4 separate regions of the Homo sapiens genome follow, and regions 1, 3 and 4 are each linked to region 2. The links come from fine-mapping of genetic effects on gene expression. A gene starts in region 2. Each other region holds a variant in brackets. All regions are shown on one strand. Distances are from middle to middle.

Region 1 (7,437 bases), 240 kb after region 2:
ATTTTAGACTCCTTGGTGATAGAAACCAACCCACAGTCATGATAACTAGCTAACATTCAGAGAGCCCTCTCTAATCTGCAAGACACTTTGCCAACCTTAACCCACTGGATCTTCTTTCTCACCCAGTGGGTGGTAATTACTGTTTCCATTTAGCAGAAGGGGAAATGGAAGTCAGAAGACATTGAGTAACTCAGCCAAGATCTAATAGCCGGTAAATGTCAAGGCCATGTCTTATTGATCTACACTGATAGGCCATCCACCCTGCCACACTGCCTCACTCTGAATGAAGAGGAGATAAAATAGCAGCCAATCTTTTGTTGCGTGATAAGGACTAAAAAAGACTAAAGGCAAGACCAGTCATTTTCAGGTGTTAGAGAAAGGTCTGTGGCAGGGCAGAGCATGAAGAAAGGGAACAATTTTGCCTGAAGGAGGTGATAAGAGGAGCAAGAAGATGACTGTCCTGGTAGAGAACCCAAGGGCTCTCTGTGCTTGAATCCCAACCCGCCATGTTTAAGTGGCTCAACCCACTCCATCCAAATATGTGTGCTCCATCTCACTTGCAGCTACTAAGATTGTTCCTTCTTTAACACCCACCTCGTCCACTTGCCAAGTCCAATAGGCATGAACTCCTGGAGACCTTGTGCATCCTGTATTTCCAGCACATTCATGGTGATCAGCACGTCAGTGTTTGTGGAACCCACCTAAGCATCATTTTCCTTGTTTATTCCATTTGGAGCTGATTGTGTCCAAAAGAAGGAGAGTGGGAGGGAAGGAAGGAGGAGGAGGGACGAGGGAGAGAGGACATAACAGATTCATCATGGCCTTTGGGTTCTGTTGTTGCTGTTTCTTGAAACTGATTAGAGCAAACTCTTGACTTCTAAAGAAAAATATTTGAGAATCTTTCTTCACCTCCCTGTTTTCTCTGTGGCCCAGACTTTTCCTTCTTAAGGTTTTCTGAAAGAATACATACAAGAAACAGCAGGAAATAAAACCCCAAGATATGAAAGTCAGTCTGACTTGCCCTTACCTAACCTTAGTCAGTAATGTCTGAGATGGGGATATTTCAATTATCCAAGCTTCCTCTCTCTTCCAGCGGCAGAGCCCCACTGACTGCGCAGGGAATAATACACATTCTACAATGTCGGCAAGTATGGATGGAGCACTGGGCTCGGCCCAGACATTAGTGCTCAAATGCGTTGATGGTGAGGAGTAATAAAGAAATTGAAGACATATCCCTGCCCTTGAGAAGTAATTTAGTTGGCGGGGGGGAAGGTTCCTAGTGATCCATGAAATGAGTAGAGGACAATTAAAGATTTAGTTGCCAACGTATAATTGTAACATAAACTGCATACAGCAGAATGGTGGAAATAATTAAAAAGAATGGGATTATGATAATTCCAGAGTCATCATGAAACAAGACCAGGCAGCCAAAGTTTCTGTGTGTAGACTGATCCCTTCATGCAGAATATTAACGGCCACAGGCAGGCTGGATGTTGGACCCAGAGATGACCAAGCAAAGGAGATGGATAAAGCCCCTGTCCACATGGGGCTCATGAAGAGAGAATGATGATAAGCCTCATGAATGAAGAATGGGGGGTCCTGAGAGAGAGAATGGAGAGAACCTGCCATGGAGAAGAGAAGGGTTCAGAGCTGCCTCACCCCACGCACACACCTGTCACTGCCCGGCCCCTTTGTGATTATTCCCTAGCAATGATCACAACCTGAAATAACCTCCTTTGTTGACTTGTTTCTTGAAGCCACCAGCCCCCCTCACTAGAATGAAAATTAAGTGCGGTTAGAGAGCTCTTTCTGCACATTCTCCACAGTGCCCCTGCTTCCAACACAGTTTAAAACACATGACCTAAGCTTAAAATTATTTGCTGAGGGAAAGAAAGAATCATGAGATTATTAGGGATGCATTATGTTCATCACATCATCAAATTATATTCGTTATGAAATGCATTATCAATGTCAGGTCTTTTCAATTCAGTAGAGGCCATATACATACACATATTTTTGTAATACAAATTTTTAAAGAGACGTGAACACGGATGACTATTGGTCACCGTAACTGCAGTTTCGCGTCTACCTCTTTTTATTTATTTTTTTAATTTTTTTAACTTGTTTTTGAGACCAAGTCTTGCTCTGACACCCAGGCTAGAGTTCAGTGGCGTGATCTTGGCTCACTGAAACATCTGTCTCCCAGGTTTAAGTGATACTCCAGCCTCAGCCTCCCAAGCAGCTAGGATTACAAGCATACACCACCACATCCAGCTAATTTTTCTATTTTTCATAGAGACGGGTTTTCCCCAAATTGCCCAGGATGGTCTTGAACTCCTGACCTCCTGTGATCCACCCTCCTTGGCCTCCCAAAGTGCTGGGATTACAGGTACCGTTTTTGTTTAATCAATGTTATCACCTCAGTGCAGTCTAACGCTGCTCAATTGTTCACGCCCTCTTTATAGGATAGGGTCTGTGCCACATTAAACATGAAATTAAAGCAACCGAATTTTTAGAAAGAGAAAACTTGGCCACTCCTTGCTTTGATATAAATCGTGTTGTGTGTTGGGGCCCCTGCCATCCCCCTCGGTGCACCAATGGATGCTCCACCGTGGCTGAGCAGATTCCGCGTGGATGCGGGATGTCAGTGTGACTGCACAGTTCTCCCATTTCCTTTTAAAATCGTGGGAAGAAGGCACTGAAACAAAACATCTTTTATTGCCTGGGCTCCAAATGCACCACAGGGAATGTTTACCAAGGGGCTTTTAACACAAATATTTACAGAGATTTTCATGCAGTTGAGGTCCTAGACTATTTGGATTTGAGTAGATGGAGCAAATTGATCTATAAACTACACGCTTTAGTAATTACCTGCAATATCCCAGGCTTTCTGAATTCCATCTCTCTTTCCCTGGCATGATGTGATATCCTCAACAATTGAATTGCTTCTTGGCAATGTGTTGGCTGTTAGTTGTGAAAAGTCAGTACGATTCCAAATGTGTGGGTCAGTGGCTTTATTAAGACTCATGACCTCATGCAGGAGGCCCAGGCAGACTTGGGCAGCTGCAAGCAGAACAGCTACATAGGATGCTTCTAATGTGGAGACACCTGCGAGAGAATTTTAGTTATTTAAGAAAATGCTCGCTCTCTCTCTTTCACACACACACACACACACGCATATCCACTCAGACTGAGCTGGGTCATGACACACCAACACCACTAATTTCATCTCTAAGTTTTTCAGTCTGTCATGTCAGGCAGCAGCTAATAAGTGCACTTGAAGATGGGAATTCATTGATCATCTTTTCCCAAATCAGTGGAGTCTGTGTCTGCCATAACTTCATTTAACATCTCATTAGGAAAGATGGCATCACCAGCCCACCCAAGAGCAGCCTCACTATCTCCCTTCATGGCTTTTGCCCCCCACACAGCTGTGCTGGGGACCCTGTTTCCATCAGGCCTCTGATGGGTCCTGCCTTCTTCTCCTGCAGGCTCCACTCCCCCCACTGGATAAGGAGCCTGGTTGTAGACTCCTGGTGGCCTTGGGGTTACAGGAACAGACTGTGCC[C/A]TGGGTCTTCCTTGCACTGGAAAGCTCCCTCTCTATAACTTCAGAGGGAGAAGACTCTTAGTACCCTAAAATACTAAAATACATGAGATTGGAGGAACCGACTCTGCTTTGTTCATTCCTACTCAGAGACATCTCCAGTGAGCCAAGCCCTGGGGGGATGTGGGGCTGGACTGCTAGGAAACTTTGCAACTGAGTTCAAACTTGGAACTGTCCTCTCTTCTCCAACACAGCAAAGGTCAATCGAATTTATACTTAGGTACTTACCAATGCTCTAAACGAAAAGAAGGCGCTCCGTGTACCTGCAATAGAGGCAATTGTTAGGAGGAGGCAGAGCTGTGGACATGCAGGGCTCCAGGGCAAGAGTCTATTGGAAGTGGCAGGGATCTGGCTCCTGAAAATGACAGGGACCCAGGCACCCCACATGGCAGGAGACCCCAGCCAGATTCATGTATGAAACCTGGAGCGAGTGAAAGGAGGCCGGGGAGAGCCGGTCCCAATGGAAGCAGAGCAGTCACGTGGTCCAGACTTGGGCTAAGCTGCCAATTGCCCTGTGACTGCACCTGTGCTCTCCCCAGGATCTTGACAGGCAGGAGCAGGGGCCTCCAATACAATGTGGTTCTGACCAGGATTCTCAGGGGCAGAGAAAAAGCACCTGGGAAACCACCAAATGGGGTTGGGTGGAGGGCAGAAGGGAGAGAGAGACCCACTCAATAGAAGGTTCTGAACATCATGAAGAAGATTTACACACTAAAGCGACAATTATCAGTTAAGACATTCATCACCAGTGAAATGCAAACAACAGGAAACCTCGAGATGTCTATAGAATACCCTATGGTCTCAAAGATCTAAAGGTCTCAAAGATGTAAAGAAAGAAATATATGAAAAATAAGGAAAGATTATGATTGGATATGAATTAAAAACAGATCACTTTTCAAAGCTCAGTTCAAGATTCTGGAAGTAAAACATACAGTCATTATTTATTTATTTATATATTTATTTATTTATTGTTTTGACACAGGGTCTCACTCTGTCATCCAGGTGGCTGGAGTGCAGGGGTGTGATCACAGTTCACTACAGCCTCAACCTCCCAGGCTCAGGTGATGCTCCCACCTCAGCCTCCCCAGTAACTGGGACTACAGGTGTGTGCCACTGCAACCAGCTAATTTTTGTATTTTTTGTAGAGACGGGATTTTTCCATGTTTCCCAGGTTTGTCTCAAACTCCTGGATTCAAGTGATCCACACATCTCGACCTCCCAAAGTGCTGGGATTGCAGGCATGAGCCACTGCACCCAGGCTGGAACTTTTTAAAATTACAAATGGATATGAACCTGGTCAGAGAAAGATTTGTGAACTGGAAGATAGTGTTGTGAAGCTCCTTCTAAATGCAGCAGACGGAGAAAAAATCTTATCTTATGAGAGATAAGTTAAGAGATATGGAAAAGAAATTGAGATTCTGCCACACAGGAAGGAGAAAACAAGGGGAATGGCAAATAAACAATATTTGAAGTAAGCATGGCTAGAAATTTTCTAGATTCAATGAAAAAGCAGGAAATTTCAGCTAATGAAACACTTGGAGTGCTGAGCAGGATAAATATATACATGAATGTATATATATATAAGTATACATGAATTATGATGAAACATTGTTGCAGTGCAGAAAGATGAAATAAAATATTTAGAGGTACCAAAAAGAAAAGAGATATCATGACAAAAGAAAGACCATGAGACTGGCAACAAATGTCTCCTCAGTGACAGTAGATGCTAGAAGACAATGAATAAATAGCCTCAGACTGTCAAGAAAACTAACTGCAAATGCCATATTTGATGCACCCTGTGAAACCATTGTTCAAGAGTGAGGGCAAAAGAGGCCAAGATATTTTTAAAATATGGACTAGAAGAAAACATGATTTACCACCCTCAGATGGTTGCAGAGAAAGCTACTGAGGGATATATTCCAACAAGAAGAAAAGTGAACCAAAGGGGAAGGAGTGGTCTGCTAAAGATAATACTGAGCAAAAAAATAATAATAAAAGTATTTTGCTGAATGCGTTTAACCACTAATTGGAAATTTGTATTTAAGAGTATTGAATTAAAATGTAAAACAAGAATGTACGGTGGGGAAAACTGGAAAAGGAGGGAAACGTCAAATAACTTTAGACTTTGTTAGAAAAATAGACAGTTATTATGTTAACAACTTAAGTTTACCAGCTAAAATATGTGGAGAGATATACTATAATAACTTCCAAATTGGTGGGAAAAAAGATATAAGAAAAGCTGTATCAAAAACAACAAGTCAAGACATAGAGAAAATAGAAGCTAGTATCTATAAAAAACAAAAATAGACAGAAATAAATATACCAATACTTACAATAAATGTGACAATATTACCTATCACGGACAGAGACTAATTAGATAACTTAAAAATCCTTCTATATGCCATTTAAAAGAGTAATGCTAAAAGCAGACAAACACTTATTACAAATATGTATAGAAAGATGTACTAAAACTACATATAACATAATTCACAGATTAAAGAAAAATCATAGTAACAATAACAAAATATTTAGAATTGATTGAAAGAAATCCCACTTTATGTCAGAACTCATAAGACATAGCTAAAGCAATTCTTTAAGTAAATTTATAGCTTTTAATGCATTTAAAAATGTTATAAAATAAATGAGCTAATCATTCAATTCGAGAACCTACTAAAATAAGAGAGAGTAAGCCTATAAGAAGGAGAAGAAAATCAACAGTAGATAAGAGCAGAAATTAAGAAAACAGAAAAGGCAAACAAAATATGGCTGATTGATAAAACCAAAGATATTTCTTTGGAAACTAATGAAAGAAAAATAGTCAACTGAGTGGACAGATCATGGTGAAAAAAGCAGGCACAAGGCATCACTAGGAGCATAAAAAGAGATGCAAAAGGAAGGTTAAAAATCATAGGACTATCATGAACAACTTTTTGACAATAAATTTGAACACCTAGAAGAAATGGTTTTTAGATAAAATTTATAAAAATTATTCAGACACTAGATTATGGTGATTTTTCAAGGAGAGTTTCACAACAGCCTCAAGAAACAGAAAATTGTCTTCTTATACAAATTGTTCCAGAATAGATGAAGCAAATAAAATACCTGACTCATTTTCTGATGCCAGTATAATTTGATATCAGAACTGAGCAAGGACATGATGAGAAATGAAAATTATAGGCCTACCTCCCAAAGAATATAGACGCAGAAATTCTAAATAAAATATCCGAAAGTCCAATCTCACAATGTATTCACAAAAAGCACATCAAGGTCAAGTGGGTTTATTTGTCTTGGGAAGTGAGAGGCAGTTGAGGTATTGCCTCGGACTGTCACTCAAATGGATCTGCCTTCACATGGAGACAGGTGGCCAGGGTCAGAAGGAGTTTCCCACTTCCACTCTGCAGAATCCAACTAGTCAGACATGAGCAGCGTAGGAGAGAGCTCCCCTCGTACCCCACACCACACACACCAGGAATGTCAGGCCACATTCCTGATATTCATCAGGTGATGGTCAGGCCGTTAACAGTCTCTCTAAAATAATAATTGGTCACTGCCAGTGCCAGAGGAAGGCAGTCTCCCAATAAACAGAAACACTTGAAACTGGTGATCAGCAGCTTCCGAATGGGATCTCAGGAGTTGGGCCCGTGGGCTCAAGCATGCCCAGTAAGAGGCATAATGGCAGAGTTTAACCGGCGCATGACCTCCTAAGTACATTGCGCTGGTTAAGAGAAAAATGCCTCAAGCAAGCATGCGCACAACTCCAGTAAACACACTGCGCATGCTCCTCTCCCGAGCGCTGGCAGAGCACTGCGCATGTGCACAGCCCACTCCAAGGG
Region 2 (7,437 bases):
AGACGTAAATAACCAAGCCCAGACTTCGTCTCTGGGGCCGGAACTAAGAAAGCCCACCCCACCCCCACCCCCACCCCCTGCCCAGCAAGTTACACTGCACCTCTCCCATGGTGGAGCAAGCCAGGCCTTCTGCCACCCCAGCTGGAGGCTCAGTGTCTACCTGTCCTAACCAGGCTCCAAGCTTGGCAGCAAGACGCCCAGTGCTCACCTAGGGAGCCGCGGAGTGGCTTGCAAGCAAAGGTGAAGGGCTGTCTTGAAAGAAAAAGTGCATTTCCAGACCTTGAACTTGCAACCCTTTGGCTCAGAGTCCCCAGGTGCCCATTGTGATGCAAAACCACCCAGACCCTCTGGGTACAGGCCTCCTTCTCTGGCCAGGAGACAGCAGTAACAAGACAGAGCTCTCCCATCAGGATCCCAAATAGGTGACAGCTCGTCCTTAAAGGCACACTTACAGAAAATCTCCTGTGCTGACATCGAGGGGGGAAAAACGAAAGGTCAAACTTCAAAAGAACCAACAGAACTATTTCCTAAAGCAAAATCCCAAGATCCGGCTTGAGGATGCTTGAGAGGAACTGTTTTAGTAAATTTCAAATCAAAAGAGAGGCTTCTTTCCAAGATATTTGCTCTTCTCTCCCTTTATCAAAATGTACTCATCTTTTAATCTAGCAACTTAGCAATAAAAAAAAATGTCTGTTCAAATAAGTTGCCATCAGGAATCAAGTGGCAGCTCAGGAAGCAGGTCGGAGCTGAAGACCAGCCACTGGCCAGTGTGGGGACCCGTCTGGTCATTCACAAAGCCTTGGAAGGTCTTGCTGAGACCTGGGACAGTCCGGGGCAGAGCAGGGGATGGCAGGCCTCCAGGGCACCTGGATCAGGGTCATTCCTGCAAAGCTGTCCTCGCTCCATTTTGCCAACATCCCACAACGGTCCAAGCCTAAACCTTATCTAGCCCAAGCACACTTATCGATTCACGCCCGACCAATATCCCACACCCAACACAATCGGCTCCATGATTAACCTTTGAAGCCCACAGCAAGATCGGCCACTGAGAGAAGGGATGCTAATAATAACATCTGACAATGTTCACTAGATGTGTTACACAGTATTCACCTCTGGGAGCAGAATCGGCTCATAAATCAAGGGTCGCTAGAAAACACTTGGCGTCCCAGTCCCCTTCCGATTTCTCAAAATCAGGACACGCACTAGATCCTCCCTCCCTTCGCCTCACTCCCCCCGCAGCTTCATCCCTGAGTGGGGGCGGCTCAAGCAGCGGGCTAACAACTACTGGCCTTTTCGTCCCCAACGCGGGAGCGCAGTGCATCCCAGTGGACAAACTCGAGAACCGCACGCTGCTCTCCGCCTCCACCTCTGTCCTCCCCGCTCGCGGTTCCAACCCGGGACCCAAATGCACGAGCTCGGTGAATGCCCCGGCAGGAGGGCGAGGGCTCAGAGGCAGCCTGCCCAGCAAAAACGACAGCTGTGCTCTGGTGGGCCCTGGGCCACCCCAGGCAGAAGCCAGAGAAGCCCGAGAACCCCGGCGGGCTGGCAAAGTTTGCCGAGAAGGGTCTTTCTGGACACCCCCACCACGGGCTCTAGGCTCGAACCCCCTCTTCCATCTGGCCCTGGAGTCCCAGACACAGACAAGCCCCGGGCGCGCCGGCGGGCGTATGTGCGTGTGTGTTTACAGCGGGGTGGCCGCCGGAGCTCCCCAAGAACCCCAGCTCTCCCGCCCCAGCTGCCCGCCAGCTGTGAGCGCCCGTCGGGCCCGGAGGTCACCCGCAAACAGCTGGGTCGGCAGCTGGGAGCCTGGGAGGCCCCTGCTCAGCCCCGGGGCCCCGAGAAAGGAGAAGGGGGAGCGGAGTGGCTGTTTGGCTGTGGTTTCCTCCAACTCCGCCTGCGAAGCTCTCGCTGGGAGCCCGGAGCTTTAGCTTTCCCCGGCAGCCCCGGCCCCCGCGCCCGCCGCGCCCAGCGGCCGGCGCCTCGCCCCGGGCCCCGGGGAGGAGGCGCGCCGGGGCAGCCGGCCAGGACACTGCGCTGCTGGCTCCTAGAGCTGCGGGCGCGCCTGGCCGGCCCCACTTCCCGGGTTGCTGGGGCGGGCGCCGCTGCCCCGACCCCGGACGCGCGGAACCCTGGAGACCCGGCCGCTCCCCGCCAGGGCCGCGGTGCTGCTCCAGGCTCCGGGCGGGCGCCCCTTTCCGGCTACCGGTGCACCCCGTTGCCCGCTTGCGGGAAGCGAAGAGGGGTCCCTTGATTTGCAACATAGAGGAAAGCGCCGCTTCCGCCCAGCCTGGCACCCACGCGCCCACACGCACCCGGCGCCGGCCGGGTCGCTCACCTGAGTCCTAAAAGCTGTTGAATCCACATGGTCACGTTTCGGGGAGCGGGGCCTCAGACCTGGCTCGCCCAGGCCATCTGCGCGGCGCCCGCGCCCGCTCGCTTCCGTCCCGCGGCGCCGGTCTCCGGCTCTCGGTCCGCCGCCTCCCGCCGCCCGCCGGCCGCGGGGCGCACAGCGAGTCAGAGCGCGGCCGCGCGGGGCTCCATGCCGGCCGGCGCGCCGCCGCCGTTGGGGCGCATGGCTCAGGCTGGGCGGCCCGCGGGGGCGCACATCCTCCGGCCGGGGCGCGGGGCTCGCGGCCCCCTCCGCCGGCGGCACAGCGAAGGCGGCAGCGAGGCGGGGCGTGTTCCGGCGCTGTCGCGGCGCAGCAAAGGGCTGGGGAGCCGCGGCTTCGCCCTCCGGGGCGGCGAGGAGGGAGGCCGGCGGCGCTGCCGCTCACGGTGCGTGTCTCCCGGCGCGCGGCTCTTGCCTCCAGCCGGAGCTCCGCGCCGATGGGGCGGCGCTGCTTAGGGTTTGGGGTGACGCGACGCGGACGGACGCGAGTCCCCTCCGCGCTGCCGGGTCGGGGGGCTCTGCCAGAGGCTCCGCCGCCGATCGGCGCCACTCAAGTTGCCCGGGGGCTCCGTCTGAGCGCTCGCTCTGCAGACGGCCGCGGCCCGGAGACTGGCAGGAGGCGGGCACGAGAGGCGCGCGGGGCGAGGGCGCCGTGGAGCGCGGGGCGTGGGGACGCGCGGCGGCGGCGCCGCGCGGAGGAGGCGCGCGGGGATCCCGGGGCCCCGCCGCCCGCGCCCACCGCGCCCGCCGCAGAGCCGCCCGCGCTGCTCAGCCGCCTCCCTCCTCGCGTCTGCCTCTCCGCGCGCTCGCCCCCGCCTCCCGGAGCCGGTCCCAACTCCGCCCGCCCGGCCCGGCTCACGTCACCCGCCTTCCCCGCCCCTCGAACGGGAGCTCGAGCCCCTGGCCTGGCCCCGGCTCCTGCTCGCCGCCCCACCTTGCGGGGGCCGGGGTCGCCGCGGGTGGTGGGGGGCGCTGTGCCCAGCAGGGGCGACAGCGCAGGCGGGGCCTCCTGCAGCCCCCTTCCCCATCCCCGGTCGCGTCCCGGTCCCCACCTTGCGAAAGGCTCGAGAGAGGCCGCAGGCTAGGATTGGACCGCCGGGCGCCGCCGGATGGTGTTGCCAGGGTAACCGGATGGCACGCGAAGCCGTTCGAGGTTCCGACCCGGTTACGGGGGCGCCCAGTGGACCCGGAGAGCTACTTTGGGGAGGGGGCGGCCCCGAAGAAGGACTGGGTGGGGGCGCATGGAGCGGGGGCTGCGCGAAAAGTTTCCTGGGGCGGAGCTGAGCCACGCGGGCCGCGCAGGAGCGTCTGTCCGAGGGTCGCCTACGAGGGACTCCTCTGCTCGGCTGCGCGGGCTTCTGCGTTGATGAAGTCACCGCGTTCCGGGTCGGAGCTTCGGCGCTTCTGCCCCGAACCCAGCGAAGCCCGGTCCTATGCCCCCAATTACCCAACGGTCCCTCATCGCCCAGCGCAGCTGCTGCCTGGCCAGGCCCTTGCTCCGGAGGAGTCACTGGAAAGTTCCAGGGAATCTGGGCCTCCCGGACTCTCCACCGGCGTTTCACTGCTCCCTTCCCATGCCAGGACTCCTCTGTGCCTACCTGGTTAGTCTGTATTTGCAAAAAACAAACAAAAACAACAACAAAAAACAAATGGGGGGCACTTAAAGGAGGACAGACGCTGGGCGGGGACCTTTCACTGAGAGAAGTGACATGGGGCGGAATCCTCTGCAGACCCGCTGACGCCTTGAGAAACCACGGCAAAACCCTGCTTTTAATCCTCCACAGGCTGAGGGCAGTGCAGAATCCGGGCCTTGGAAAGGACACTGGTGCCACCCTTCACTGGGGAAAGGTGCAAGGGGCGGGGGATATACCATGCCGAGCCTTCGCTCTGTGCTCTGTGCAGGTGCTTGACCCAGGCCAGCTCTGGAATCGCCCCAGGCCATGTGAGAGCCGTGGGGGGTGAGAGGGGCGGGAAGCACTTCACAGGTGAGGCCTCCCTGGGAGGGGCAGCCAGTGAGGGGGTGGAAGGGCAGAGCCAGGAGGACCATGGCTTGGGGCTCAGTCTCCCAGGCGAACCATAGCTTGGGGCTTAAGTCCCCCAAGCAGCCCTTTCACCCCCAGGCCTCCAGGATCTTTGCCAACGGTCTTGAGGAGCCAGGCACAGGATTGGACTCTGCCCGGGCAGGAGGATGAAGACAGTGACTTCCCCACCAAGACTCCCGGCAGAGGGCCAGAGGCAGGGAAGTGTGGTGGCAGGAGGGCCAGCCTTGCCGTGGCTGGACCAGGGGCCAGCGCTTGCTAACTCGGGGTCCTGGCCGAGTTGTGTGGCCTCTCCGACCCTCGGTCTCCTCATCTGTAAGATGGGTCCCACAGCCCCTCCCCGGGGAGGTGTTTGCAGGGCTCCATGAGAAGGCCTTACACACACTGTGGCTATGGTGATCTGTGAGCCGGTCAGAGGACCCGAGAGGCAGCAGGGTGACTCAGCAGTTTCCCTGCCGGGCCGCCCCTGGGTCATCGTCCCCTAGAGCCTCTCCCTGAGGGGTGTGAGGGAGCGGATCCCATTAAGAGGCGAAGGAGGCAGGGAGGTCCTGGAACCAGCGGGGCCTATGGCGGCCGGCGGGGAAGGAGGCGCCGGCAGTGCTGCCACCTAGCGGTGTGAGGAGGCGGTGCTGCACCAGGGAGGCCCTTCCTGCAACCGGAGTGGGCCTGGAAGGGGCCGGCTTCGCACACTAGGAGCCAGCAGGGCAGGGAGGGGCTCCGGACCGGACCGTGTCGGCTCCAGGAACCCCTTGGGCAGCCTTGTGGACACCTGCTGACCTCTCTCAGAATGGCTTCTAAGTGCATAGATGAAAAAGCCCAGGATTATTAGGAAACCAATTCTATGCAAATGCATTATCAAAAGAGTAATAAAAACAAATTTCTGATATAGCCGTATATATTATTTATTAATACACTTAGTAAGCAATTGACAGATCCTAAATTACGTTCCTTTTGAAGTCCAGATATGCAGCAATAATATCCTGAGGTAACTGCAGCCATGGCAGTGTGATATGGAAATGCCAGTGCTTTCTATGTTTGACGGTCACAGGCACTGAGCTCTGCCACCGACATTGATAATGAAAGGAAATGCCAAGTCTCAGTTAGGGTTAAATAAAGATGCCAGTTTTCCCCCATACGAGTTGAAAGACCCTTTGAATTCTATCCAAGTACCCTGGGAATCTCTGGACAAAGAAAATAGTAGAAGGAAGTGTTTTCTGACAACCGAGATGGGAACAAGCCCTGCAGAAGTCTCCAGGCGAAGTCAGAGCCTTAAGACTACAGCTGCTGCCCCGGGTGAGTGAGGGCTTCTTCAGTCTATGGGGACGGAGGATGCCCTCTGCCCTCACCCAGGCTTAAAATTAGGATTTGGGACCAGGGTACACTGATTTCCTTTTTCTCTAGGGTAACTCAGGTCTGCCTCTCTCCAAAAAGAGCAATCCACCTATTATTATTATTATTATTATTATTATTATTATTATTGAGATGGAGTCTCACTCTGTCACCTGGGCTGGAGTGCAATGGCATGATCTCAGCTCACTGCAACCTCTGCCTCCCAGGTTCTCCTGTCTCAGCCTCCTGTCTCAGCCTCCCGAGTACCTGGGATTACAGGTGTGCACCACCACGCCCGGCTAATTTTTGTATTTTTAATAGAGACAAGGTTTCACCATGTTGGTCAGGCTGGTCTCGAACTCCTGACCTCAGGTTATCCACCCACCTTGGCCTCCCAAAGTGCTGGGATTGTAGGCCTGAACCACCGCGCCCAGCTTATTATTATTATTTCGATGACAAAATCATTGTCTTTTTTTTTTTTTACAGACTGTAAAACGACAAAACCTTAACTTGCATTTCAGCATTTCTAGAACTGGTTTTCTATACATTGATGGCTCTCATATTTCTAACTGGTTCATTTTTCTTCCCTTGGGGATTGGGAAGCTGTGTGTATGTCACTCCCACCCAACACACACACACACACGCGTGTGCGCGCGCACACACACACACACACGCCTCCCAGCTTCGGCGATACAAAAGGGAACTGTTCAGATGTTCATGCTGTGGAAAGTTCTTCCGGTCACCCTGCTAATTCTGGCCCTTTCTCCCCGCTGGGGGAAGTCCACAGCCTGGAACCCTGGGGAACCCCTGCGGTCTCCTCACCTAGTCCCCTCCCCTATTTTCCCAACAAAGGAGCCAGCAGGCCCCTGCAGGAGGTCCTCTTTGAAGCTCTCTGAGGCCATTTATCTAATGGCCTTCACAGACTTGACTATTTTTAAAACCCATCCAAAGCCAAATTGAGCTGCCATTGTTCATTTTTCTCCCAAGGAGGTAAATGTGTCTTAACCATGACATTTGATTAAGTAGCTAAGTTTGTGATTTTAAATGGAAGGGAAAATGCTGATTAAAATTATTATAAGTTTCTTGAAAGCATTCACAGGAGTGTCTTCCCTGACTCTCCTATCTTCCTGGCTACCCCCCTCCCAGTAAAACTTGCAGGAAGCTCATGGTTGTCGGGGGCAGGGGGAGTGACGCAAAGTCGCTTTTCCTTCTCAGGGAGGTTATATGCTGGAGATTTGGGGTTTCCTCCCCCTGGCACCTGAGCTGTTTCCTGGGTGAGGCTGCACACAGCTGCACTACACGCATAGCTGAGCGCAAGGCAGAGACCAAGCCTTGGGGCAGAGGTGGGAGCCAAGAAGCTGTACTCCCACCCACAAAATGACTCACAAGACAATCATCCTGCAGCCCAGCACTGGCCGGCAAGAGAAAATGCCAGGTCTGAACTGCCTGTGAAAGTGTACCCATGCATCAGAGAGAGGAAGACGGGATTCCTTGGCTTGCTCTGAGCAAGTGATAGCCTCCGGGTACAGATGGAAAGAGGGCCACCTAAGAATTTGATCTGGCCCAGAATGGAGAAAAACTCTCATCTCAAGGCTTTTATGGATCTTCTGTATTGATCAGTTTGCCTCTTCTATTTAGATAGAGAGGGATGAAGAAAAAGAAGGTTAATTTGCATTGCAA
Region 3 (7,437 bases), 320 kb before region 2:
TAGTGACAAAAACAGTACCAGTTGTTTGCCTTGAAGAGCAGAGAAAATGTAATTTAAAACTCTCTGCGAATCTTTGATAATTAATTTCACACCAAATGAGCCATTAGAACGTCTATAAAACATCTGATAGCTAAAAAAAAAGCCAAACCAATGATTTTCCCCCTAAACAAGAATGTCAACAATAAAAATTTAATATGCATAAAGAAATTAGGAGAGGAACAAAGCCAAGTGGAAAGTTTTGTCTTGCTTCCTTTCTTTCAAAGTTGGTGATTTAAAGAGTGAACTTGAACTTTGTCAAGTGAAGGGAATAGTCAGGACATTTTCGATGATAAAACCCACCAAAATGTAAGTGAATTATCGGAAAAATCAGTGGGTGTATTGTCTGGTGGTTTCTGTGCTTGTGTGCTTGTATGTGTGTATGATGTGCATGTTGATATGGTTTGACTGTGTCCCCACCCAAATCTCATCTTGAATTGTAGCTCCCATAATTCCTGTGTGTCATGGGAAAGATCTGGTGGGAAGTAATTGAATCATGGGGGCAGGTCTTTCCCCAGCTGTTCTCATGATAGGCAGTAAGCCTCAAGAGATCTGATGGTTTTATAAAGGGCAGTTCCCATGCACACACTCTCTTGCCTGCCGCCATGTTAGATGTGCCTTTGCTTCTCTTTTGCCTTCCGCTGGGATTGTGAGGCCTCCCCAGACATGTGGAACTGTGAGTCCATTAAACCCCTTTCCTTTATAAATAACCCAGTCTCAGGTATGTCTTTATTAGTGGCACGAGAACAGACTAATACACATATCTATCCATGCATGAAGGGTATGTGACTGCTTGTGTGGTGCTGATGTGTGATGGCACACGTGTGTAAGTGTGTGTGTGGGGGGTGTTCTGTCTGTAGTGTATTGTTAGGAAGTAGAAATAAGAAGCAGCAAAGTGTAAGTCAGAGATTTCTTTGGGTACATATCCACATGAATGAGTAAGGAATCAAAAGCAGGCAACTTGGCTGTGCCTATAGTCAATGTATTAGATGACTATATTAAGCTTAGATTATAGACACCATTTAAACCATCATTGGGTAAATTTACCCACTATAGGAAATTGTTGGTCCTAAACTATAGATCAGGCAGAGTAAACACTCCACGCTACTTACACACATGGTTTAATGTTGAACTTTTTGTTCTTCTACAAAAACTGAGACAAACTGAAATGACTTCTTAGGTTTGCTGAGAACAGCAACAATAAAGAAACCTCTGCAAAATTTGTCCAGTGGCATTTTCTTGTATAGCTATAGTCATTGGTGCAATTTCGGGTCTTGGGGTCTCACTCTTGGGCCATGTTCATATTTGGTGGATGAACCAGCAGGTGCTCGCCCCATCCGAGCTGTCTACTCACTTGCCCGAGTCCAAGCAAAAGTCCCAGGGGTTCTGGGAGGTGCTGTGATTGCTCTGGTGGAGTATGGTTGTTTCTGATAGCACTGTTCTTGCAAAGCTCTTCACTTCAGGATGCAATTGATTTTAAAGGCAAATGGCTGAGGCGTGGGAGAAAGAGCATAGGATTTGAAATGAGAAGAAGTTTATGCAAAGCTCCTTTCTGCCACTTCCTGGCTGCACATTCGAGGATGGAAGTCTCACTTTGTTGTTTCACATCAATGAGGGTTCCTTGGATGAAAGCCTTAGAAACTGACCAGCTGATTAAAGCTCTTCTGCAAAGACAGGTCATTGGAATCACAGGGGATAGAGGAATTGAAGTGGAAGTCTTAGAATAAACAGGAAATGGGAAAAGGAGGAAGAACAAACCCAGGGAACAGGAGGAAGAGCATGTAGTATTTTCACGGCGCCTCTTCCTGGGGTAATTCGTGGCTTTTTTTGTCGTTTTGTTTTGTTTTGTCTTATGCCAGTCAAAGATGAGAATTTCAGGAGGGAGAGACTGTTGGTCTTAGCTGAGCCCCCCATCCCTGCCTTACCCAAGGGAAACTGAGCCTCTTGAGTGACAGCTTGGCAAGATGTGTATATTAAGGGAGTAGCATTCTCCCCAAGGAAAACCCAGGTGCTGGTACCAAAAAGAGGGATTGGCATTCACTGCATCCACCCAGCTGCCCCTCCTCAGGGAGCTGGCACTGTCTTCTGGGTCAGTCCAATCTGTGGTCAGCTCCCAGGACTGACCTTCCTTGACCCATCAGCATCGTGTGTCCTGGCTCATCTTATCTGGCTCACTGGCTACTTCTTTCAATCCTAGGATAAAGGGGATCTATTCAGGTTCAGCCACACCTCCCCACCTTCCTGCCACCCCGAGATGGGCCCTCTAGACCATCCAAATGGGTCCCGCGCAGCTTCCCACTCCGCTCCCACCTCTGCCTCCTCCTAGTTTAATTCCAATACGGAGAGTAGATTGGGTGCCTCCACTGCTCCAAACCCTACATTTGATTCCTGAACAGTATAGAATAAAAACTCAAGGACTCACAATGGTCCATAGGACCCCACCCCACTCTTCTGACCTCCCTCCTATCTGCCTCCACCTATGCCTATGGTCTCTTTTTTCCCATTCCTGCCCCAGCCTTTCTGCCAAGGAGCCTCGATCTGCGGTGTTCTTCCCCCGATGGCCCTGCCTGCTTGGCACCCCTTGCCTTCCGCACCCTGCCCAGGGTCATGTTCCCCTTGAGGCCTTTCCTGAGTCCCACCACTTTGTTTCTTTCTACATTCACGACCACTGTCTAGTGCATTTTATTATTGTACCCATGTACTTTGCTGTCACCTCTCTCCCCATTTAGAAGTTACCTCCCTCTGGGCGTGAGGGAGCTTTGCATCGTTTTGTCTGTTTCATTCCCTGCTCTGTCCCCAAAGCCTAGAATAATAACCAGCACATGGCTAAAGGCCAGGAAACACCTATTGAACTAATGAACAAACTTGTTGAGGAAATTAATAATAGATCACAGACTAACTTAGCACAGTCTCAGGCCTAGGGTAAGCACTCAATATACGTTGGTTTATTCATCAGCTTACTAATTTAGTAAATAGAAGGAAGAGGCAGTTGGTGATTTTCATCTGCTTTACTTTATCCAAATAAATTCTGAGAGGAAATGTTTTTATGATGGACTAGTACTAAAATCTCCCCACATGTTTCATGTGGGGTCAGCCCATTCTGCCCAGTGGAGATGGGACAGCAAGATCCAGTTTGAAGCATTTGCTATCAATGGCATTGAAGTATCACTGAAGGATCTCCAGAGCCCAGCAGCCAAGAAGGAATGCAAAGAGCCCACAAACAGAGGTTACTCCTCAAAGCCACTGCCCCTTTTGAAGACAAAAAGTGGGGGATGTCACAGTGCTACAGCCGAAGACCAGGACAGCCTGAGAGAAGCACAGAGTGGTTAGTAACAAGAGGAGAGCCAGGACTT[T/C]GCTTATAAGCTTGCGCTACACCCCATCAGGATTTCCCCGGGAGCTTTTTCCTGTGCTGGGGAATAACATGAACGTGCCCATCAGTGCAAAGGGTGCAGTGAGGGCAGGAAGTTACCGTCACCTCATTAGGTTAACGAGACACAAACCTCCAGCCCCTGTGCAGTGAGATACTGGTGACCGCCCTCTGACGTCTCTCCATCCTGCCTCCCCAGGCTGTTCGGATGGGTGGGGTTCAGATTCATGCTGTTTAGGGCAGGGCAAGCACCCTGCAAGCACAGAAGGCTCTGTTTCTCTGCTACTAGAGAAACCCACACCCAGTATCTTTGCACACTGCTGTCTCTTGTTTGGGTGCCGCCAAGTGGAGGCCACGGAGACTCAGTAGCAAGATCACGTGCTCCCGGCATCTGGTCAAGCCATCAACAATATGGTGCTGTTTAACACGAGGTCGCTGCGGTGCCCCATCAACACAGTGGGACCTCGTTAAATGTCATCTTATTTTAGAACTGGAGAGGATGTAGGCACCACGGAGTTCAAGGCCCTCATTCAGAAGCAGGACATCTGAGGCCCAACTCGCCCCAGTGGCCCTGCCTGGGGCACAGAGTGTCTCACCCAGCTTGCTATGTACTGTTCCTTGGCTGACCCTGATGGTGACTGTAACTTCCTGCCCTCACTGCACCCTTTGCACTGATGGGCACATTTGTATTATTCCCCAGCACAGGAAAAAGCTCCCGGGGAAGTCTTGATGGGGTGCATTGCAAGCTTATATGCAAAGTCCTGGCTCTCCTCCTGTTATTAACCACTCCCTGCTTCTCCCAGGACCTCTTGGTCTTCAGCTGTGGTGCTGTGACATTCCCCGCTTTTTGTCTTCAAAAGGGGCAGTGGCTTTGAAGAGTAACCTCTGTTTGTGGGCTTTTTGCATGAAACCTAACCCCACTGGCACCCAGAAAAGCAGCAGAAATACTGACCCAGGGAGTCAGTTTGTGCACCTCCATTCCTGCCTCTGTTGAATGGTAGTAGCCTTGGTCTCACAGGGGCACTTTCAGTAGAAAAGAGAAAGGGCATCTTTTCACCCACAGGCATTGACGAGGCCCCTGTCCTTCTAAACGTATCATGTGGAGATGATTCTGGGGCCAAAACCACTGGTAGGAATCCCAACTTCACTGCTTTCTTGTGCTGGTCAGATGATTTAACCTCCGGAATAACAAGACCCACTTTTGTTGAGCCCACTGTAGGTCCTCCCAAGTCCTCACTGCTTTCTTTCTGTGTCCTGACCGAGTAGCCCAGATTGCCTTGACTGCTCTGTGACCCGGCCAGCTGCAGGCTTTCTCCTACAGGCTTGAACCCAAGCTGAACTCTGGAACATTCCCAGGCACTGATAAAGTCGTTCAGGTTGTTGCTTGCAGCAGTCAGTGAGAGACCACGTTGCTAAACATGTAGAAACCAGTCCGACCTTGAGCCAAGTTCCCTAAACCCTCAAACGCCAGACCGTGACCTCATCATGGACATACGTGGGCAAAACATCCCTTTCCTTGCTTTCTGTCACGGGGCTTCAGCCGCTGTATGTAAATTCCCCCGGTAAATGCTTTACAGCAAGGACCCCAGCAATTGTTTCTTCTCCCTCTGGAATTCCAGCCAGCCCCATCTCAGAACAGTTTGGGGCTGTCTCTTGCAGGAACTCCCCTGCTGTCAATTTTGGAGTGACTCTCGCCATGGGTTTGGCCAGACAGAGCACCCTTGCAAGGCATGGGTTACCTCACTGAACGCTCACAGCAACCCCAGGGCATGGATAATCCCAGCAGGGTATCCCCATTTTACAGGCAAAGGAGAGGAGGCTCATCAGAAAGGTCTCACAGCCAGGAACTTGTGGAAGCAGCTGCCTCCCTGGTCTGCCTGCTCTGCCCACTGGGTTCTAAAGCCTTGCAGATTCATGAGGACTCAGTAACATGGGGTAGGAAGAGTGTGCACTGCCCAGGGAGTGCTGAAGGTGCAAGGAGATAATACACTTGGGATTCACTGGAGCCCCACACCCCACAGCTCAGAACAAGGCCGCTGGAATTGCCGATTCCTGTGGTGTGGGAGGGGGCCCTGGCTCCAGTCGGACACTGCCCCCAGGTTTAGTTAGTCTGTGTCTAAGAGAAGAAGAGGTCAATACATTGGGAAGGAAATGTCGGGAGGGCCCCACTCCAGGCCCCACCCCTTGGGCCTTTCATCTCCGATTCCATCCTCACCTCCGTCTATCTCTCGTGCCGCCCCACGTGCGTCTTCCTCCTGGGTGGAAACGCGGCAGCTGGGGTGACTTGCAGAGGCTCTCGCTTGCGTTCCTGGGCTCCTCCTGGGATAGGGAGAAGGGTCTTCAGGCTGGAAATTAGAATAAGGAGACGTTCTCCCTTGAATTTAATTGCATCTCTGTCAGTAATTCAGCAACCATCATTTGCACACACATTTCTGAAAGGCTTTTCAAGGAATTTCAAACCCGCCATTTAAAATTCTCATTATGGTAGGAAATGGTCCCTTTGGGGCCCAACAGTTTTCTCTTTGGTCTCACGGTCCCTGGAGGTACGGATTTCAATTTAGAGTTTTCCACGTGGAAACTGAAGGAGCTAAGGCTCGCACATGACTCCCCCACCCCCTACCCCCGCCCTGAGCAAACACACTCGTTTCCAAGTCAGATGAGCAGCGAGAGAAAACATTCATCAAACTTCAGTAGTGTAATGGGTCTTCGCTGCTGGAATTAAATGCAACAGGTAGATAGGATTATGTTTAATGCGTATTTACTGGTCGATCTCTCAATTTGCTGAAGAACGTTAGTAACAATTGGTAACAAACGTTCCGTTGATTTATATGAGTGCATACAAACCCGGAAGAGCCCCACATCTCCCCCGAACCATGCCTGCATCTCTTGGGAGACTCTCACTTTCAAATAATCTTGTTAGATATTGTTAGAAACTGATAGATTTGCATACCGCGAATGTTAAAATTCAGAAAATACTCAACCGCCAATTACAGCCACCACGTCTTTCCCTAATTAATCAGTCAGGAAAGAGCAGCTCCAGGTGCTTTTCCTGAGCTGAGCATCCGCCAAAGCCTTTGTCTTTATTAATCTTGATGACCCACCAGTCAGCATAGGCAGGTCCCTCCGAGATGACGGAAAAGCGGGAACACCTCGGGGACTCACACCTGTGCCAAGTGATGAATCCTCCCGACACCTGATTAGATGATTCCCAGTTCTGTCTACTTCTGGACATGATAAACATCAGAGACTGCTCAGGGACAAAGCTAGCACCCCTGAGGCTCTGGATGGTGCAATTCCTAATCCAGTGAATTTCGTTCTATGCCTCCTTCAGGAGGTGCTCCTCATGAGCACCTGTCCCATGCCCTGCCCTGCAGACTAAGGGACAGTGGAAAGCTGTGGAGCAGAGCCCCCTCTGTGAATTGAATGAGCGTCCCTCAATGAACAAGCCTGCTCATGTGGAACACAGGGACAGTGGTGCCTGTCAAGCTCAGAATGGGTGGGGCAAACTTGGTGAGAGGGAAACCTAGAAGAAAGAGCAAACAAATTGTCCCGTACCCAAGCGCTCTAAGAAATGAAGCTGGTAAAACAGCACAGCTCAGAAGGGGCAAAGAGAGTGTTTGTAGACTTCAGTGCTCTGGAGAACGTTGAACATTCTCATGTCTAAAAGCGGGGTGAAATTTATGCTCAAGGCCACGAGGGACAGGTGTTCCCAGCACAGACTGCTATATATTCATGAAGCTGATTTCCACATGCGCCCAGGAGGGCTCCAGGACTCCAGCCCTGGCTCACAGCTGTCCACTGCCTCCCTAGGTCAGCCACCAGCAAGAGCAAGGCCTTGTAACTAAAGGGCCCTCTGGGCCTCCTCCCAGTCTACAAGCCTGGTGCATCGCTCCAAGCCCCTACTTTGAGGTGCCTCTTTTGACTTCCTTTTGCAGGTAGAGACTCTCTCTAGGGGCAGTTCCACATTCCAGCCAGGTCTGATGCTTGGAACTCTGGTCCAGGCTTAATTTGTCTGTTTTTGGAAGAGGAGTGTT
Region 4 (7,437 bases), 230 kb after region 2:
CATATTTATATGCATCTATACCATGTACATGTTTACACACATGTCACATATATACAATATATACATGCATCTATATCACATACATGTTTATACACACATATCACATAAGTATACTATATATCATCTGCACATTTAGGCACACACCATATATATATGCATGGATATCATATACATGTTTACACACTTATGTACATATGCACTCTATCTCTGTTGCATCTTGTACACACAATCTGTTGCACACTCTTGCACACCACCTCAAACCCACTCATCACACAATTTTACTCTCACACTCATACACGCACTCATACACACTCACACTGTCACACTGACACTCACACACATTCTAACACTCACACACACTCACACACCAACATGCTTCACATACTCCCCATCTTGTATACACTCACACAGACACACCCACACTTAGCCTCTGCAGTCTTTCACCACTCTGTCTCACACACATAAATGCCCACACACACATTCTTAGTCACTCACTCCTCCTTGTATTCACACATACACACACACACAATGTCACACACGCTCACATACACACACAGTTGCATGCACACAGACACAGAGTCTCTCACAGTCAAACAGGCAATGCCAAGCAGTGTGTAGATTGAAGAGGGGACATTTGATCATGATGAGTGGCCCATGCTTTGGAAAGGAGAGTGACAGGTTGGTCTGGGTTTGAATTTGAGGGCCTGAGAAAGGTTCAGTGCCTGGCTGAACTTCAGCCTGGTGAGCGATGACATCAGCCTCACAGGGTCGGAGGCCACTCAAGTCGACATCTCATTTTTCAGGAGGCCCAGAGATGGAGCCCATGCTCCCGTCCTGGGGGCAGGTGAGGAGAGGCCCATGACCAGCGTGCAGAGCAGCCGCATTTCTGGACCTCAGGAATATCTGAGTTGTTGCCACAGAAACTGAAAGAGGTTTCCTAAGAAATAAGCTTTTCTAAAGAAGCGTGTTTACATGGTTATAACAAACATGTTTAGAGCATCGTATGTCTGCGGCCATGGCTTTGGCAAAGTCGTTTCATTCCGCAAACAACCGTGCAGTGAGCTGCCTTGCTGTGCACCTGCCCTGCTCCAGACCCTGGACAGAGCAGCCAGGGCCTCCCCATGAAACCTTCTAGCATGTGTGAGATCCTCCATAAGTAGGAAGTCCATGCAGGAGATCTCAGCAGTGGCTAATCTGCAGGTGAGAACACGGAACCAGGTGGGGAGAGCTCAAGGAGGGAGCTCAGAGCAGGCCTGTTCATAAATGACATCCTGACTCAAACCTCACAACACAACGGAGAGGGCAAGGAAGCTTCCAGGGGGACGGTATGCCGGGGGGAGGGGACAGCAAGGGCAAGAGCTCAGAGGCGGGGCATGGGAGGAGGCACAGCACGGGAAGGGGCGGGGCATGGGAGGAGGCACAGCATGGAAGGGGCGGGGCATGGGAGGAGGCCCAGCACGGGAAGGGGTGGGGCTGTGGGAAGAGGCACAGCAGGGAAGTGGGTGGGGCCGTGGGAGGAGGCACAGGCGGAAAGGGGGCGGGGCTGTAGCCTAGGATGAAGCCTTGGATGCCATTTTTAGGGGCACCTGAAAGCTGCCAGAAGCTTAGGTGCGAGCTGAGAATTGAAAATGCACCTCACCTTTTGAAAACATGACCAGATCGCTGCAGAGAGAAGGAATTTCTAGAGTGGAATGTGCGGGAAGTGGGGGACTTCCCAGAGAGGAGTCATCACAAGGGGCCGGAGAGAGGCAACGGGCCCTTTGCACAGGCTCCTGGGCAGAACACGAGCAGGAAACGGGGACTGAGGCAAAGGAAGAACCTTCCCAGCTCCGGAGGACACTTTCCTGGGAGATGAAGTCGTGATGGAGTGGATGTGAGTCCCATCAGCCCCACTGCTGATGTCTGGGTGCCACGGAACCATCTTCCATGGCAACGCTGCTGCTATTTCACTCGCTGCCGTCGGGCCCAGGACGATCCCTCCTTGAGCCGGTGAGGCTTTTACACAGTCAGCCTGAAGCCAAGCAGCCTGTTTTGTTGACTTTTTGCCCAATCATGTCCAGCACGTGGAAACCATACCCCACGCAGAGATCAAACCTCCACACACAGAGCGAGGAAAGGAAGCAGGCTTTGCTAAAAGGACCCCATCATTCTGGACTGACGCCTTCATTAAGTCCTTTGTAATTCATCCTTATAGACATAAAATTATCGTCCGAAGGAAGAATGTTAATAAAACTGACATTTCTCCGTCAGTCATCTTAATTCACAACATAACACTTTCCGGAGCCAGTTAGGTGTGCCTGATGACTACATGCGGCTAAACATTGTTGTTCACTGGAAACGCACATTTCGAAGTCCCTGCCATCATTGATTACACTGAGAGCAGCCTCTTTGGTCTGGAGAAGCATGTTAATGTTACTGTTTTTGTGCCAGGCCGGCGGGGGAGCACACCCTCAGCCTGCGCCACCCTCAGGGACCCATGATGTCCCGAGAATCCCAAGAGCATGTGAGCCTCCTAGCTTGTGACAGCTGTGTGGAAGGGCCACGCCATGCACGTGGAGAGAAACCTGCCTCAGAAGGATGCCCAGGTGGCCCAGTTGTGGATGCAGCCACTGAAGCCTCCCTCTGGGGTCCCCCTCCAACAGCCTCAGTCCTCCCGATCACCTGCGCTGACCCCCCTCCCCACATCCCATGAGGAAGCTCAGCTCTTGGAACAAAGGACCTGGGACTCAGCCTTCTGATGTCGCAGGACTTTTCCTTAGCTCAGCTAATGACGGGGTCCTTGTCACATGGCCATGAAAGATTAGGCTCACAGACAATTTGAAGACTGAGAATAATAGGATTTATTGGGCAAAAAGGAAAATAAAGGGGGAATGGGGACTCAGCAGAGCAAGAGTCTCCCCAGTATAGGCTTCCCGCCTCACAAAATAAATTCCAGGTTCCAACCAGGAAGAGGAGTGGCCAGGCTCCTCCCTGCTGCAAACACCGTGAACTTCTGTGGCTCCACTCCAGTGTACATGCCCAGCGAGCAGGCCGGCTGGAGTTTCTCCGAGAACCCCTTGCCACCTGGCTGTCTCACTGAGAGTGTGTTGGATTCACTGGAGAAAAAGAGAGGGAGGCAGAGTGATGCCAGGGATGCAGAGGGACCAGAGGTCAGGTTCCTAGGGCTGCCAGGACAGGGGACCACAGACGGGGAGCCTTCACCAACAGAAATGGGTTCTTTCATAGTTCTTGAGGTCGGACGTCAAAGATCAAGGCGTGGGCAGGGCTGGCTCCCTTGAGGCTCCGTGGGAGGCTCTGTCCCAGGCCTCTCCAGCTCCTGGTGGTTTTTGGCAATTCCTGATGTTGCTCAGCTTGCAGATGCATCACCTGATCTCTGCCTTCATTGTCACTTGGCATTTTCCCTCCGAGTGCATGTCCACTTCTGTGCCAGGTTTCCTCTTTGTATAAGATGTTCAATGAACATTACCTTGTCTCTTGTTAAAACAGTGAGGAAGACTTTATTCAAGACCGCTGCAATGGAGGAGGGAGACTGAGATCAATGCCAAATGCAATGAAGACACCTGGGATTTGTAGTCTGGGGGCCCATGAGGAGCTGGTGGATGGAACCACCAAGAGGAGACCCAGGGACAGGGACTCTCACTGTGGACTCAGCAGGGCTCCTGCTGCAACTGGGCTGCAACTGGGGGTGGCCAAGACAGACAAAAGCTTGGTCAATGAGAAAGACCTTGTCAGGAACACACTTGTGACCTTGAGCATTGACCATTGACATTCGATTTGTCCTTTAGCATTGACCTTACACATTTCATATGACCTTTGACATGGACCTTTCACATCTGATTTGTCCTTTGGCATTGACCTTACACACTTGATTTATCCTTTGACATTGACCTTTGACATTTCTTATTGGAGTAAGGCCTACCTCAGTGACCTCTTGTCAACCTGATGATCTGCAAAGACCCGATTTCCAATAAGGTCACATTCTCAGATACTAGCGGTCAGGATTTTGACATCTTTTAAGGGGACATAACTCAACCCATATAAAAGGGTATATTTACCTTACAAAATCCAGCTAGGAGCATTGTCAGCAGGTCAGCCTCCCTAGAAACAGAGCCTGAGAGGTCTTCCGACCTGGGGAGAGGTTACTGTCAGGATAAACCTATAAAGGAGGGAAGGAAGGAACCTGGAGGTGGAGGAGACCTTCATCCCACCTTGTCAAGCCAGGATGACTCAGGCATTGGCCTGATCTCAAAGGAGAGCCCAGAGCCCAAACTGCTGTACAGGGTGCTCCACCACTGCCGCAAGGGGACCCTTTGTACCTGGATCAGTCAGTCCTGGAGAGGGGTCAGCCTCCCCATCAGGCGGCTTCTGGAGTGGAGAGCAATTCTCCTGGGGGTTGAGGGAGAGCTGAGAGACCTCAGGAGTCACAACACACTGGGGGCCGGTCTCAGGCCTGGCGAGGGAGATGGAGCAGGGCACGGCTGAGCAGGGCACGGCGGGGTGGGGCAGCCCAAGCATGTGGCAGCAGAAATGATGCTCCAGGTGCTCACGTGGGCCAGCCTTGCTGCTGCACTGGGAGCTTCTGGCTCCTGTCCTCTCCAACCCCATATATCTCGCCGAGAACTAATGCCCTTTAATGAAATCAAGCGACAGTGACAAAAGCCCTAATTTTATGTCTTCTTCATTCTCCAGCTGCAGCTGCAGTGCCCTTAGGACATTTCCGTTGACCAAGTGCAATTTATCTGAACTGAAAAGGAGCAGAAAGAGGCAGCTGCAACTCGGAGCTCCCTCTGTGGGCAGAGTGAGAACCTCGGTTTTCTCAGTATTTTGTTTGTCTTGTGTGTCCCCATGGGACGTCATCACTGCAGTTCAGGGGTGGTGACCAAGTTTGTTTCCCTGGTGGGCAATTTCCCATAATCTAACCCCAGCAGCAATTCCAAATCACTTTAAATCGAA[C/G]GAAATAAATGTCTCTTTTGTTTCCGTCTTCTGAGGTTGGGGAGGAGAAACTTTGTTGCAAAAGAACTTTAAAAAAATACCCTTAAGGGGTTGCATTATTCAAAATGTCACAAAATAACCTTTGTGTTGGACACTTTAAATAAAAGAATGCTCTGTGAGTAGGTTGGGGAGGATGGAGGGAAGGTGAAGTTATTTTATTAATTACTTAAAAAAAACTTTAAAAAAAAATGCCCCCAAACCACAAGGCAGAATGACCCTAAATCTTTGGAGGACAAAATCTTGGGCTAACTTAAAAAAATTCTTCACATACTTGCGCTGCTCGGTTTCCATGGGAACCTAAAGAGGAACTCTATGATGCCTGCAGAACATCTATTTTTACATTAACCCTTCGTATCACAAACAAAGGAAAAATAGACAAGAGAGGGAGAGATGGGGAGGGGCAGCTTAACTATCTTCACTTGTGCTTTAAAGACCTCACAAGTGTAGTTGGGCTGGAGGACAAGACCGCCAACATCATCTGAAAACGGAAAGCAGACTGGTATATTTCTTTCTTTTAGAATGACACTCAGGAAAAGTAATTAACATGAATGTTGTTAAGTCTGCTATTTGCACCACGAGGACAATTCCAACTCAGGCAGCAGCATTTTCATCCTGGGATCTGAGAGCCTCGGAATGGGGGATTTGATCCTAGAGGCAGTGAGAAATGTGTGTATGCAGGTCATTATTCTGGGTTTGCAGCTGGGCTCACGTCCAGCCTTATGCCACTGGGTCTGGGTTTACAGCAGTTCTGAGCCCCCTGGGAGGGGCCTGGAAACTGTCAGTGGGTGAACACAGTTGCCTTTTAGGAAATAATGTTACCCACCACCTACATTGAGGATAACCTGTTTCAGAGGCTCCTAGTAAATGTAAATTTAGGCCTCTTTCCTCTCTGAGAAAGGAAAAGGCATAACTTTTGAGAAGGAACAAAGGCTTCAGCAACGGTTGGTGGAATGTGATACAGCTTCACTTATGTTTTTAAACCATCCCAGTGTTGGGGGGCAGGGAGAAACACCACCAACACCACAACAAAAGCAGCAACCTTGGGGAGTAAATACGAGTGGGTTTTCCCAGGTCACATTTTCCCCTAAAATAAACCTATTTTTAAAATAATACGTGAATCCAACGGCAACAGGAAGCTGATGAAGCTAAATGTGAGCACCTGTTTTTTCCTACACAAGAAATGAAAATAAACTCACTGTAATGAAAATCAAGTGCAGAAAAATGATTGCCTAATTAATTGAATGCTTCACTGATTAGTTGTGCTTCTTAAATGTCTCTGATGCCTTTTCTATTGATTGACAGTGCAGAAAAAAAAAACAGACAGAAGGAGGCAGCCTGGCCAACCAATCTGGCCTCGAAAGGGTCAGAGGTGGAATGTCAAGGGCAGTTGGTCAACTGCTTCACTCCGATGAACAGGTCCCCCAGCACTTTGGGGACAAGGTGGCCTCTGCTGCCAGCTATGTCCCTGCCTTTCTCTCATCCTTGGAAGAGGAAGTGGCTGGATGAGGGCTGGCAGGGTGGGCTCAGGGTGATTTTCTGAAACATTGCTAAATTGCCTGGGATAATAGAAGACATGAGCTATGTACCCATCCTGTTCAGCCCTCATGACAATTGATAATCTCCCCCCATTTGATTAACATTGTATTCTCAGCTAGACTGTAAGCTCCATGAGGGCAGGGACCAATTATGTCTGGTCCCCAGCCAACATTTCATATTGATTACTTATCCATGGCTGATACAAAGTAAGCACTCAATACACATTGGCTGAATGAAATAAATGTTTGAAAAGAAGAGCATGATGAGTATTGTGGTTTTTTTCCTATCAGTCCTATAATAAATTACTGCAAACTTGTAGTGAAAATAGCCCACGTTTATTAGCTCATTGTTCTGGAGATCAAAGTCTGAAATGGGTCTTTCTGGGATGAAATCAAGGTGGCAGTGAAAGGAGTTAGCCAGCTTGCTTTAGGCAGACATTAAGGGAAGGGTCCCCAGAGAACCTCTGACCTGTCCCACAGGTGCTTATACCAGACGTTTTGTGCAGATAAAGGAACTTGCACAGTGGGGCACACAGTGGACTAAGGGCCCGCATGCACAAGGGGTTGATGGGGTGGAGCCACTAGGAATTCGTGCCTTATACATATATATATATATATATATATACATATATATATATATATATATACATATATATATATATACATATATATATATACACACATATATATATATATACACACACACACACACACACACACACACACACACACACACACACACACCCTGGTATTCAGCTGCGAAGGGGGCAACTGAGAACCTGCCTTCAGGAACCCTCTCTTTGCTGTGAGCTTTCTTTTCGCTTAATAAAGTCTATTCCACTCAGTCTTTGAGTGTCTGTGTGCCTAATTCTTCCTGGTTGTGAGACAAGAACCCAGACCTAGCTAAGCA

Direction of the effects. Positions count from the first base shown, and alleles are read on the strand shown. Sizes are in standard deviations (SD) of each study's normalised expression. Not every link is listed here.
In carriers of allele C in region 3, the expression in esophagus muscle of the gene that starts at base 3,181 in region 2 tends to be lower than with T alone (small effect, 0.29 SD a copy in GTEx).

What was found. PIP is the estimated chance that this variant, and not a neighbour inherited with it, causes the effect. A credible set is the group of variants that fine-mapping cannot tell apart.
Region 1: its variant is the best candidate, but not a certain one, in a credible set for the expression of AJAP1 in whole blood (TOPMed, PIP 0.64).
Region 3: its variant is the best candidate, but not a certain one, in a credible set for the expression of AJAP1 in esophagus muscle (GTEx, PIP 0.69).
Region 4: its variant is the best candidate, but not a certain one, in a credible set for the expression of AJAP1 in T cells (TOPMed, PIP 0.59).

Annotation. Positions count from the first base shown.
Region 1 is chr1:4,411,983-4,419,419 of GRCh38, reverse strand. LINC01777 (long intergenic non-protein coding RNA 1777) reads right to left here and starts at 7,369. Exons shown (of 6, transcript NR_027088.1): 1 at 6,788-7,369; 2 at 3,833-3,867; 3 at 2,872-3,108. The variant C/A (reference allele first, on the strand shown) is at 3,569.
Region 2 is chr1:4,650,353-4,657,789 of GRCh38, reverse strand. AJAP1 (adherens junctions associated protein 1) reads right to left here and starts at 3,181. Exons shown (of 6, transcript NM_018836.4): 1 at 2,336-3,181. The coding sequence starts at 2,364. RefSeq lists an enhancer at 5,141-5,190.
Region 3 is chr1:4,975,273-4,982,709 of GRCh38, reverse strand. LINC02781 (long intergenic non-protein coding RNA 2781) reads right to left here. Exons shown (of 5, transcript XR_946902.2): 4 at 5,619-5,748. Among named protein-coding and RNA genes, the nearest start is that of LINC02781, 5.6 kb to the right of the region's middle. The variant T/C (reference allele first, on the strand shown) is at 3,390.
Region 4 is chr1:4,420,067-4,427,503 of GRCh38, reverse strand. It overlaps LINC01777 (long intergenic non-protein coding RNA 1777), which reads right to left. Exons shown (of 6, transcript NR_027088.1): 4 at 4,317-4,744; 5 at 4,056-4,156; 6 at 2,820-3,510. Among named protein-coding and RNA genes, the nearest start is that of LINC01777, 12 kb to the right of the region's middle. RefSeq lists enhancers at 1,932-2,433, 3,991-4,491. The variant C/G (reference allele first, on the strand shown) is at 4,954.